Regions from separate parts of the Homo sapiens genome. Here region 2 is linked to region 1. The links come from fine-mapping of genetic effects on gene expression. Tissue or cell type: pancreas. Region 1 holds a variant in brackets; the other region holds the start of a gene. All regions are shown on one strand. Distances are from middle to middle.

Region 1 (5,392 bases):
CTCCAGTTGTGGAGTTGGTTCAACTCTGTATTCTATCTGGATCCTCCTTCCTAGCCTGGATCCCCAAACAACTGTGAATTGTGAATTCACAACAGTCCAAATCTGCTTCTGTTTGGATACACAAACCAGACTGTACCCCTTCAGGACTCACAGTTATTCTATCATTTTTGCTACCACCATCACCAACACCCCATTCTATGAATTAACTCATTTGTGTCTCTCAATTGGTTTACTGTACTGCTCATTCTGTCCCTTATCCTATTTCACTTCCAGGTTGACAAAAACTCTTGTCCAAAAATAATTATTAGACACCTATGAGACAGACACTGTAGTAAGCACTAGGGACATAAAGACAAGGCATGCATATTCTCAAAAGAGTATAGAACATTGGGAAGGCAGATCTGCTTTCATCCCTTCCTTTGACACACATCTGTTAAGGGCCTAATATATGCCAGCTACTCTACCAAACCCCCAGGATACAAAAGTAAATAAGACACATTACCTGCTCTTAAGGAACTTATGGTCTATTTGGAAAAGACTGACAGGAAAACAAAACAAACAAACCATACAATGAAGTGAAATACAGTATATATGTATATGCTGGGACCAACTGGAGTAGGAATAATCTATGGTACTTTGGGGAAAGGATTTGTTCAGAGAAGCCTTTATGGATGAGGTGACACTTGAGATTTGAAAGCTGAGGAGTGTGTGAGGGGTACAGAAGAACCCTGAATGCAGAGATTATACTGTGACAAAACATGGTAGCCTAGGTTATTCAGATCAGACTTCCCACTGAAAACAACAATATTGGATAAGGTACAAAAGCATCTTCTTAAAATAATAAAAAGCTGACAAGAAAGTATTTTAACCAGGCTAAAATCTAAGTGAAGCAGGAGCTCAGGGAGGTGAACCGAGCTCTGGAGATTATTTTGGCTCAAGACATCTGTCAATTGTAGACCTCTCAGGCTGAGAAGAAACCAACATCAAAGCTCAGTTCATGCAGGTGAGGAGACAAATTGAAGTGCTTCTCTATATTAAACTGTTTCCCCAAAGGGTTACACCCTCAGGGAAAGGGCAAATTAGAAGTCCTACTCCATTCCATTCCCAACACCAGGGGACTTAAGGAAATTTGTCTATTGCTGAGCAGATTAAGGAGGAATGTCCCTGAGAAGTTGTAACTAAAAGGTGGTCCTTGAGCCAATGTGCAGACTGAATTTACATCACTTAAAGAAGGGTACATTCAAACACTTCAGATATTGAATCATTAGACATATATGGTAAAACAATTATGCATACTATATTTAAAGATAGAAATAAAAAGTGGGATAAAATTTAAGAGGAAAAAAATTAACAAAATGTGCCTTAGCAGATTTGAAAGGAATTGAACACTCTTTTGAATTGAGAAATAAAACTAATTTGAAACGAATGGTTTTTACAATGATTGTAGTAAAGATTAAATTTAATCAGGCAAGGATCATCAGTGAATGCCAAATCTGAGGGAAAATTTGTATAAGGAGCGGGATATTCGTATAATCTTAAAGTGCGAACCCACAAGCTGCTTATTAGTTTCAAGAGAGGAGAGGAAAAGAAATTAGATGGTGGAGAAATCAGGTAACTTAACCGATTCATCAGAATTGGTATCCACACTTCCAGATATGACACTCGGAGAAAAATACAGTATCAAAAAGGCTGTCTTCTTGCCAAAAATGTGTAACTTGAATCTAATCATAAGGGAACATCACACAAACCCCCTATTAGGAATATTCTATTTCTAAAAGGTAAGAGTGGGGATTTTGGTCTTTCAAAAGGTAAATGCCATGAAAGACTAAATAAGGCTAAGAAAATGCTCCAGATTTAAAAAGGCTTCAAAGACATGACAACTAAATGCAATACCTGACTCTACACTGCACATGGCACTGGAGAGGAATAAAATGATATCGAGGACATCACTGAGTCAACTGAAAAAATGGATTATGTGAACAGATGAAATAAAAAGCATTGTACTAATACTTTTTAAGTGGTAAATTAAAATTTACCATGCAAAAAGTATTTACATTCATACTTGTACTGTAGCTATATGAAAATATCCTTACTCTTCAGAAATAAACACTGCAGTACTCAGGGGTTAAGGACCATGATGTATGTAATTTACAACAAATGGTTCATAAAAAAGTACACATATAAATATTTCATTTAAAAAGTATATGTGTGTATATACATGTATATATAAGTATGTATATTTACATTTAAAATTATATACACATGGAGAGAGAGAGAAGGACAGAGAACAAACAATAAAGATAAAGGCATAAAATATTGATAATAGATGTACCTGAATAATAAGTTTAGAAGTATTCTTTGTACTGTTTTACTTTTTCAACTTATCTAGAAGTTTTAAATGTTTAAAATTATTTTCAGATAAAAAGAAAACAAAAGACCTGAATGAATGGATTCAACAACAATCTAGACATAGATGAGGGAAAATACTAGCACTCTAAAAAATGGGGCAGAAGAAATTATCCAGAATACAGTACAGTGGGGAAAAAAATGTAAATACGAAAGAGAGATTAGGCTTAATGGGCTAAGGAGTAACATATATTTAACTAGAGTTCCAGAAGAAGAGAAGAAAAATAATGGGGAAGCAGGAGGGGCAAAATTTGAAGAACTAACCATTTTTTAGAACTACTAAAATATAACAATCGCAAATTTATGAATCCCAGTGAATTTTGAATAGGCAAATAAAATGAAATGAACCTGTAGTAACATCAGAGTAAAACTGCATTACTCCAAAAAATGAAGTAAAAGCAGCCAGAAGTAAAGGACAGATTATTCCTAAAGAGCATCAGTTTGACAGCTGACTTCACAAAAACAACAGCAAAAGCCAAAAGATGCTGTGAAATTATATACATAGGTATTAAA[T/C]GTACTGAGAGACAATAACTGCCAACCTTGAATTCTGTACCCAGAAAATGCATCCTTATTATAAGCATGTTTTCAGACAAATAAAGAGATTTTTTTTCTATCATCGGACCCTGACAAAATGGATTCCAAAAGGATATACTACAAGCGGAAGGAAAGTGATCCCAGATGGAAAATCTGAGATGCAAGAAGTAATGACAAGCAAAAAAAGCAGTAAATATATGAGAGGACTCCATGAACAAAAGTATGGAGGCAGAAAATAGTCTAGTGTGTTCAGGGAATTGCCAGCAGCTTGGCTGTAGATTGGTGAAGCAGAGAGTTAGTCTTTCAACTCTATCAAATACAAATCCTATCAGTAAAAACTAAAATTAAGCATGTGCTCAGAATACATGTAGATTTACTTATTTATGAAAATATTATGTATATTATAAAATGTGCACAAAAATAATTTAAAAGGATAGGATTAAGAACAAAATATAAATAGAACTTCTGATATCTTCTTCCCGTATTCTAAGTGATTCTATTACAAAATTAGGAGTCAGCAAACTATGGCCTGCAGGCCAAATCTAGCCCACCATCTGTTTTGTCCTACAACAGCAAAGCTGGATAGTGGTGGCACAGATGTATAGCCCATGAAGTCTAAAATATTTACTATCTGGTTCTTTACAGGAAACGTTTGCCAACCCCCGGACTTGAACACAGGCCGCGACAGCAGAGTCAGGGTTCATAGTCACCACATTGTGGACTTGTCCATCATACCGGGAATAAGGAGCTCCGAAGGATTTTAAGCAGGAGAAAGGTCATTCTGGCAGCCACATGGTAAATGGAACAGAAGAAAGATGCCTGATGAAAGGGAAGCCAACTAGGAGATATTTTGTGACAGTGATTAAAGTGCTTTTCCTCTCTGACACCAGGTTCTCTGTCTATAAAATGGGTGTGATAATTCACACAAAGTTCTCTGTGGGTCAGAGGAAAGAGTGTCTTAACTGTGAAAGCACTATAACAATTCAAGGTATGATGATTTTTTTTGCAGTAGATTTTCATTAAATGAATGTTTTGGAAAGAGTTATATGTGTTTTGCTGTAATTTTGGTTGTATTCTTTGACATTAACACATTTTGTATAATTGCATCACATAGCTATACTGAACCCATTTAGTATCAAAATTTAATGCAATGTAATTTTGTAAATTGATTTAAATCTATTTTAGTCACTTGTCTGGAAAAACATTGCTAGATGCTAATAATTCAGTGCAAATTCTTTGCTTACTTGCTTACAAAGGGTAGTACTCAATTGAAGAATGTATTTATACAAATTGACTTATTAACACCTGATATGTACATCCCATGTAACAGGCATAAAGATCATAAAGAAATAATATGGCAGAAAAAGATCTATGAGCACAATCATATTTTCTTTCAATTCTTGAGACTCCCCAAACATTATAAGCTAAAAAAAGCAATTTTTCTCTTTAAAAAGACAACTTGGCCAGGCGCGGTGGCTCACGCCTGTAATCCCAGCACTTTGGGAGGTCGAGGCGGGCAGATAACGAGGTCAGGAGATCGAGACCATCCTGGCTAACACGGTGAAACCCCGTCTCTACTAAAAATACAAAAAAAAATTAGCCGGGCATGGTGGCAGGAGCCTGTAGTTCCAGCTACTCTGGAGGCTGACGCAGGAGAATAGCGTGAACCTGGGAGGTGGAGCTTGCAGTGAGCCGAGATCATGCCACTGCACTCCAGCCTGAGCAACAGAGTGAGACTCCATCTCAAAGAAAAAAAAAAAACTTAAGGTACTTCTCTTATTACTGTTTATGACACTGAAACATACGACCATATTAGTTGATTCTTTTTCAGATTCAGGGGTGTGGTTTTCAAGAGCACCCATCTGCACCCACCATCTCATAAGATAAATTACTGAGAGTATAACATGGTTGTGATAAATTATAGAGTATCTGTGGCAACAGTAGATTATGCCCTCATGATATTTATGTCTCTATCCTTGATGTGTGTACAAATATGTGTTTAGGAACATATGCGTAGACATCCTTTAAAAACATGCCAGCATATTGTGAAAGAAAAAATATATGATTATCATCAGAGAAGATAAAAGGTGAGAAACAGTACCACATGCATCCTAATAGAACTGCAGGCTGTTTTAATTTTAATCAGTTTCAGCCTTCTTCGTTGAAAACAGAAGTAAATCATGCAAGGAACTAATTCATACTGGGAGAGACAGCAAAGAATGCCAATAAAATTTATTTGTAAAAAAAATTACTACAAAAATATTTCTACCACATTTCCAGTTTTATTCTAAATAAAAGAATAGAGGCCCTTTTCCAGGAACATTTTAAAAGGAAATAGCTTAAAGGAAACTTTTATTTCTGCTTTTTATACAAATGGCTGGGTCTCATTTATTATGCATTAATTTGCAGACAAAACCCTGGTTCTCTGCTCAAGAAAAGGCTTGACACAAGC
Region 2 (5,392 bases), 110 kb after region 1:
GCCTCAGCCTCCCAAGTAGCTGGGACTGTAGCCGGACACCACCAAGCCCAGCTGATTTTTGTATTTTTAGTAGAAACGGGGTTTCACCATGTTGGGGAGGATGGTCTCGATCTCTTGACCTGGTGATCCGCCTGCCTCCGCCTCACAAAGTCCTGGGATTACAGGCGTAAGACACCGTGCCTGGCCGAGTATGATCTACTTTTAACATTCTTTGAGTTTAGCTGTGCCTAATACATAGTATGATCATATAAATTAGCATACAGGTGCTTATGAGTCATCAGTCTTAGCTTAGGATGTTAATCAATTGGCCTCACTTTCTCTTTGGACTAGCTGAGTTTTCTTTCATCAGGGTCATAGACTACAAATCAACGAGTCAGGTACAGAAGACAGAACCTTAGGCATTGCGGAATTTGACCAAAAATGGTAAATAAATTGGTGCAAATTCATCATCACAATTGGAAAACTGAAAGAGCAAGCAGTGGGGCCACTGCAATTATAATAACGGGTGGTGGCTCACGCCTGTAGTCCCACCACTTTGGGAGGTCAAGGGGGTCAGATTGCTTGAACCCAGGCGTTGGAGACCAGCCTGGACAACATGGTGAAACCCTGACTCTACAAAAAAAAAAATCCCCTTCCCCCACCTCCCCAAAAAACTAGCCGGGCATGGTGGTGGGCTCCTGTAGTCCCAGCTACTCTGGAAGCTGCAGTGAGAGGATCACTTGAGCCCGGGAGGTTGAGACCAGCCTGGGCAACATGGCGAAAGCCCGTCTCTACAAAAAAAATTAAAAAAAAAAATAGCCGGCATGGTGATGCGCATCGGTAATTCCAGCTACTCAGGAGGCTGAGATGGGAGGATTGCTTGAACCCGGGAGTTGGAGCAGCGAGCCGAGATCGCGCCATGGCAATCCAGCTCCGGTGCCTTCCAGTCTGGGCAACAGAGAGAGACTCCATCGAAAAGAAAAAGGGGGGAGGGGAGGGGAGGGGAGGGGAGGGGTGGGGAGGGGAGGGGAAAGATTTTACAATTTCCTGTAAGCAATGAATGGCTCTAATGTGATATTGATGAAATACCATCTTTAAGAAAGTGTACAGATTGTAAGTGACACGTGGCTGCTTACGTTACTCCTGAGATGCAAGTAGATCATGACATAATGATAACCAGTCATAATTTGCAGTAATCCCTTACAAAAAGTCCAAATTTGTTTGAAAATACAGAAACTTTTACTAGTCGAAGTTAAACATTAAACATTTTCTAGTCATTGCCTTAACAGGATTTATTAGAGTTACTATAATTTATTGAAAGAATGGCTAGATTTATAAAATGTTTTCTGGTTATGAGCCAATTATGGCAATTATTTTAATTATATATTTATAATAAAAATGCATGACTGTAAGATAAAATTTTAAACCAAATCATAATTTATATTTTAAAATAGCTTTAAAATACTTGCACATAACACATGTCGTGGTTAGTAACTTTCTCCAGCTACATTTAAAAGTATTTCTAAGATTAATTACAACATTTTTTTCTAAAGGTTTATTTTTTCCCCACAGCATAACTCTATAAATTAACGTGAGCCCATTATATCAAAGGTGTTTATGTGTGTTACATATGCATTTAATTTTAATATCCTTATTTAAGGCACGAATATCCCCAAGCAAGCACAGTATGCAATAAGAAGTCCTGTGGAGTCCTGTAAGTACTTTGATGAGGAATGCAGGATTTATGTAAGACCTGAGCGAGCTTGAAGAAAGACTCTACAATTGATAAAACTAAGTCAGACCGAACTGGATCATTTTCAAGTAAAATAGGTAGCAAGGCAAAAAGACCGCCTCAAAGTCGCTGCCCTTGGGGCTCTGCCACTTGCTTTACAGGCTAGGAACGGACAATGCCGGGAACCCGAGAGCGGCCGGCGCGGACGCCGAGGCAACTTTACTTGGGGCACCCACTACTCGCAATCAACTCCCGGCCTCCTCTGCTCTCGCGCCTCTAGGGGCTCAAGCACTGCTCCGGGAGCGCTGAATTTTGAGGAAGAGGGCAGAACTTCAGTAAGGAGACCTGTCTGGGCAACGGTTTCAGGACACGCGGTGGGGAAAGCGACTAGCCTCCGGCGGGGCAGGGCGGGCTGTCCTTACCTGCAGAACCACCGGCCACGATCTGCCGAGAAGCCTCGCGCACTAAGCTGACTTCAGGCTTGGCGGACATCTTCGCCAGGCGGGAGGACAAGGGAGTGGGCTGAGATGCGTCAACGAGCTCGCAGCCTGCACAGCCTACTGATCCAGAGAGCCCCGGCTGGGCTGGTCCTCAAGCGCGTTGGCTCCCTGTGGAGCAGCAATCCGGCGACTGCTGGAAAGCGAGGGTTCGAGGCGCAGATTCGTCGCGCGATCTCCGGCGCGTCGGAACCTGTTCGCAGCGCTCTCGCAGAGGCGCCCTCGGCTCCGAAAATGTCTCTGGAAAGAAGACCCGCGGATGGGTTTGGGTTGGCTCACCGCAGCGGCTCAGGCTTTGTCTCCTAGATTGGCGCCCACGCCCTTCTCTATCAGGAGCCTCCGGTAGTTTGTCAAACTAGACGGTTGCCTCTGATAACTCAAGTGAAGTGACCCAGGCCTGGAGCGCCAAGTACAAAGCGGGGACGACACTTGCACCTCCTGGCAAGCCAGAGCACAGTGAGGTTCAAAAGAAGGGACAAGTGAATAAATTCCTCAGTTAGTTGTCCTATAATTGTGGTCTGTAGCAACTAAGTCAAAGCAAATCTAATTTACACTTACCTTACAATAGAGCTAAGGTAGTACTTTACCAAAAATGGTTTTGATTTAAGGTAAAATCATACCTCATCAACTTGAGTTTTATTTACCTAAGGACCAAAAGAAGAAAAAGCCTGGTTACAAATAGTTTCTTCTATACCCAGGTCAGTGGTTCTTAAAAGTGGTTTTAGTACCCACAGCATCAGCATAATTTGTGAATGTGTTAGGAAGTCAAATTCGTGGGTCCCACCCCGACCTAAACGGAATCAGAATCTCTGGGGATAGGGCCCAGAAACGAGTTCTCTGTTGATTGTCATGAACTTTAAAGGTTGTGAACCACTGACTTAAACAATTGAGGAACATTAAGGAACTTAACAGTATATTCTCTCAATAAAATGTTTGATTATTCTTACTAGCCCCTTAGGATAGTTACCAAAACAAAACTACTAATTTATACTCTTTTAAAACTACAAGTTGCCTGTGTTATGTAGGAGAGATATAAGATTGTGAAATTTTCCAAAAATACCTGCCACACCCCTAACAGACAGGAGATGATAAGAGTAAAAGAGAGAATTGGGAGGCTTTAGAAGCCCTATTGTAATATTTCTTAAAACACATTATTTATTGCTAAATATATTTAGTGTGAGCCATGTAAAAATTGCCATTTTTGGAGGTCAAAAACCGTTGAATATCAGCAATTTAGTATGGTTCAATTTATGTGGTTTCTAATCAAATGTACAAAGTACAATAATTTGGTTTCATACTTGATTTTTTATTTCTTAGGCTGAGTCATTAAAAGTTGATCAGTGATATATGGCAAAATTATTTAAAGTGCTTGAGGAATTGGGGAGACTTGCTGCTTATGTGATCAGATATACAAAAATAAAGTTTTTCATTTCATTAAATATTTGATTAAAACTGCTAAGTTTGAAAATGTTTACCAAGAAATAGTTTTCAGAAATTTTGCTAACTTGATAAAGGCTTTTGAGCAATATCTTTCAGACTTTTTACTAATTAAATAGGGAATCTTGAGTGCAATATAGAATCACTTATTCAACAAATATTGAGAACCTGTTATATACTAGGTATAGAAACAGAATTTCAGAGCTCATAGAAAATGTTTTCCTCATTTTTCAAAGCAGAAGCTGAGTTTTCCAAGATCACACTAGGCGTAATAGTATAGCTGGGATTCCATCACAGGACTCCTTCTTTTGATAGCATTGGATTGTAGATTTAAATATTAACCACAGGCTAAAAAAACTACATTCTGTGACACAAATACCCCCACAAATTAATTCCATTTTTTTTTAGTTTTTAAAAATTTGGTCACAACTATTAAACCCTAGTGCACACACTGAAACAGATTCTACACTGAGAGCTCACTAAGTGTTAGCACTTGCCTAGGTACTGACAATATCACTACAAATCCCTTCCCTGTGGCACTTACAATCTAATGGAGGAGATCCTACCACCTTGTAAGTAAATTTTTGCCTTCCCTACGTTATCCAGGAAATGCAATAATACTTTTAGGTCAAGATTTAAAGACAATCTTTTGACATAATTATTTCCATGAGTGTCTTCCCCTCTGAAGATCTTATCCATGGTAGGTGGGAGCAAGTTTGTGTCTAAGACCCAGCCTCTAAAAAGCTCTGTGGATTCAGTTGGAAAACTCCCAGTTATCCTTGTTAAAAAGTTACTTCCTCTTTTTAACCTCTCCAGACTAGAAGAGATATCTTTGAGTGAAAAAAGCAAGACTTGATATCACATATAATCCAGTCCTATACCTCTAGAATACTAGAGGATATGGGGCCTAGGCATGAGAACATTCTAGAGCTTGGGAGTTAACAAGAGTCAATACAGAGCCAATAAGTACTCACTGTGCTAAACGCTCTGATAATGGAATGTAATTCTTATCTGCAGCTAAATTTGCTCATGGCCAATATTGGAATGCTGGAAGATTTAGTACTGGGAAGCAATGGTAATATTTACTTGACCTATTTCAGATTCCCTAGCCTCTATTACATTGTTGTTCTATTATTATTTGGAATAGTGATGTGATATCCTAATGGGGCAAAACTGCTAAAGTATGAAGATTATATTCTTTAAATTATTGATTTATTTAGCTGATCTTGGTTGATAATTACATGATTATTGACTTCCCTATCGTTTGTCAAGTGGCTAAAAAAACCCTTCAGGAACATAACTGGGAATCTAGGAGTTAAGAAAGCCTCTAAGCCATCAACATGCAGAAATCCATTTAGAACTAATTTTAGAACCAGTTTTTAAAAGGGTGGATATCTGATTTCTTGTTTCATATCAGATTAGAAATAACATATTAAAAGATAATTGGATTGTTTGGGGAGAATAGGGGAGGTTCTAGGAAAGTAAAGAGCAATCTGCAACCTTCAGGCCATATTCAACCTATCTAGTCAATTGTAGTAACAACATTCATTGACTTTACCTTCTCCCAGAAACTGGGCTAATTAAGCATTTTGTAATCCATTATCTCATTCCTGTTTTACAAAGGAGGAAACTCTGGCACTGAGATTAAGTAACTCCCCCAAAATAACACTGAGTATTCGGCTAAGGTATTAATTTGAACGTAAGTATAATTTAGGAGCCCTCTATTTGTTAGGCTATGGTTTTTTGT

The links. PIP is the estimated chance that this variant, and not a neighbour inherited with it, causes the effect.
Region 2: SLC25A21 starts here. The variant in region 1 is fine-mapped to the expression of SLC25A21 in pancreas (GTEx, PIP 0.94).

The regions. Positions count from the first base shown.
Region 1 is chr14:37,064,492-37,069,883 of GRCh38, forward strand. All of the region lies in intron 1 of SLC25A21 (solute carrier family 25 member 21), which reads right to left. Among named protein-coding and RNA genes, the nearest start is that of SLC25A21-AS1, 100 kb to the right of the region's middle. The variant T/C (reference allele first, on the strand shown) is at 2,920.
Region 2 is chr14:37,170,148-37,175,539 of GRCh38, forward strand. SLC25A21 (solute carrier family 25 member 21) reads right to left here and starts at 2,459. Exons shown (of 10, transcript NM_030631.4): 1 at 2,134-2,459. The coding sequence starts at 2,203. It overlaps SLC25A21-AS1 (SLC25A21 antisense RNA 1), which reads left to right and starts at 1,879. Exons shown (of 1, transcript NR_033240.1): 1 at 1,879-3,647. RefSeq lists enhancers at 1,574-2,153, 2,154-2,732.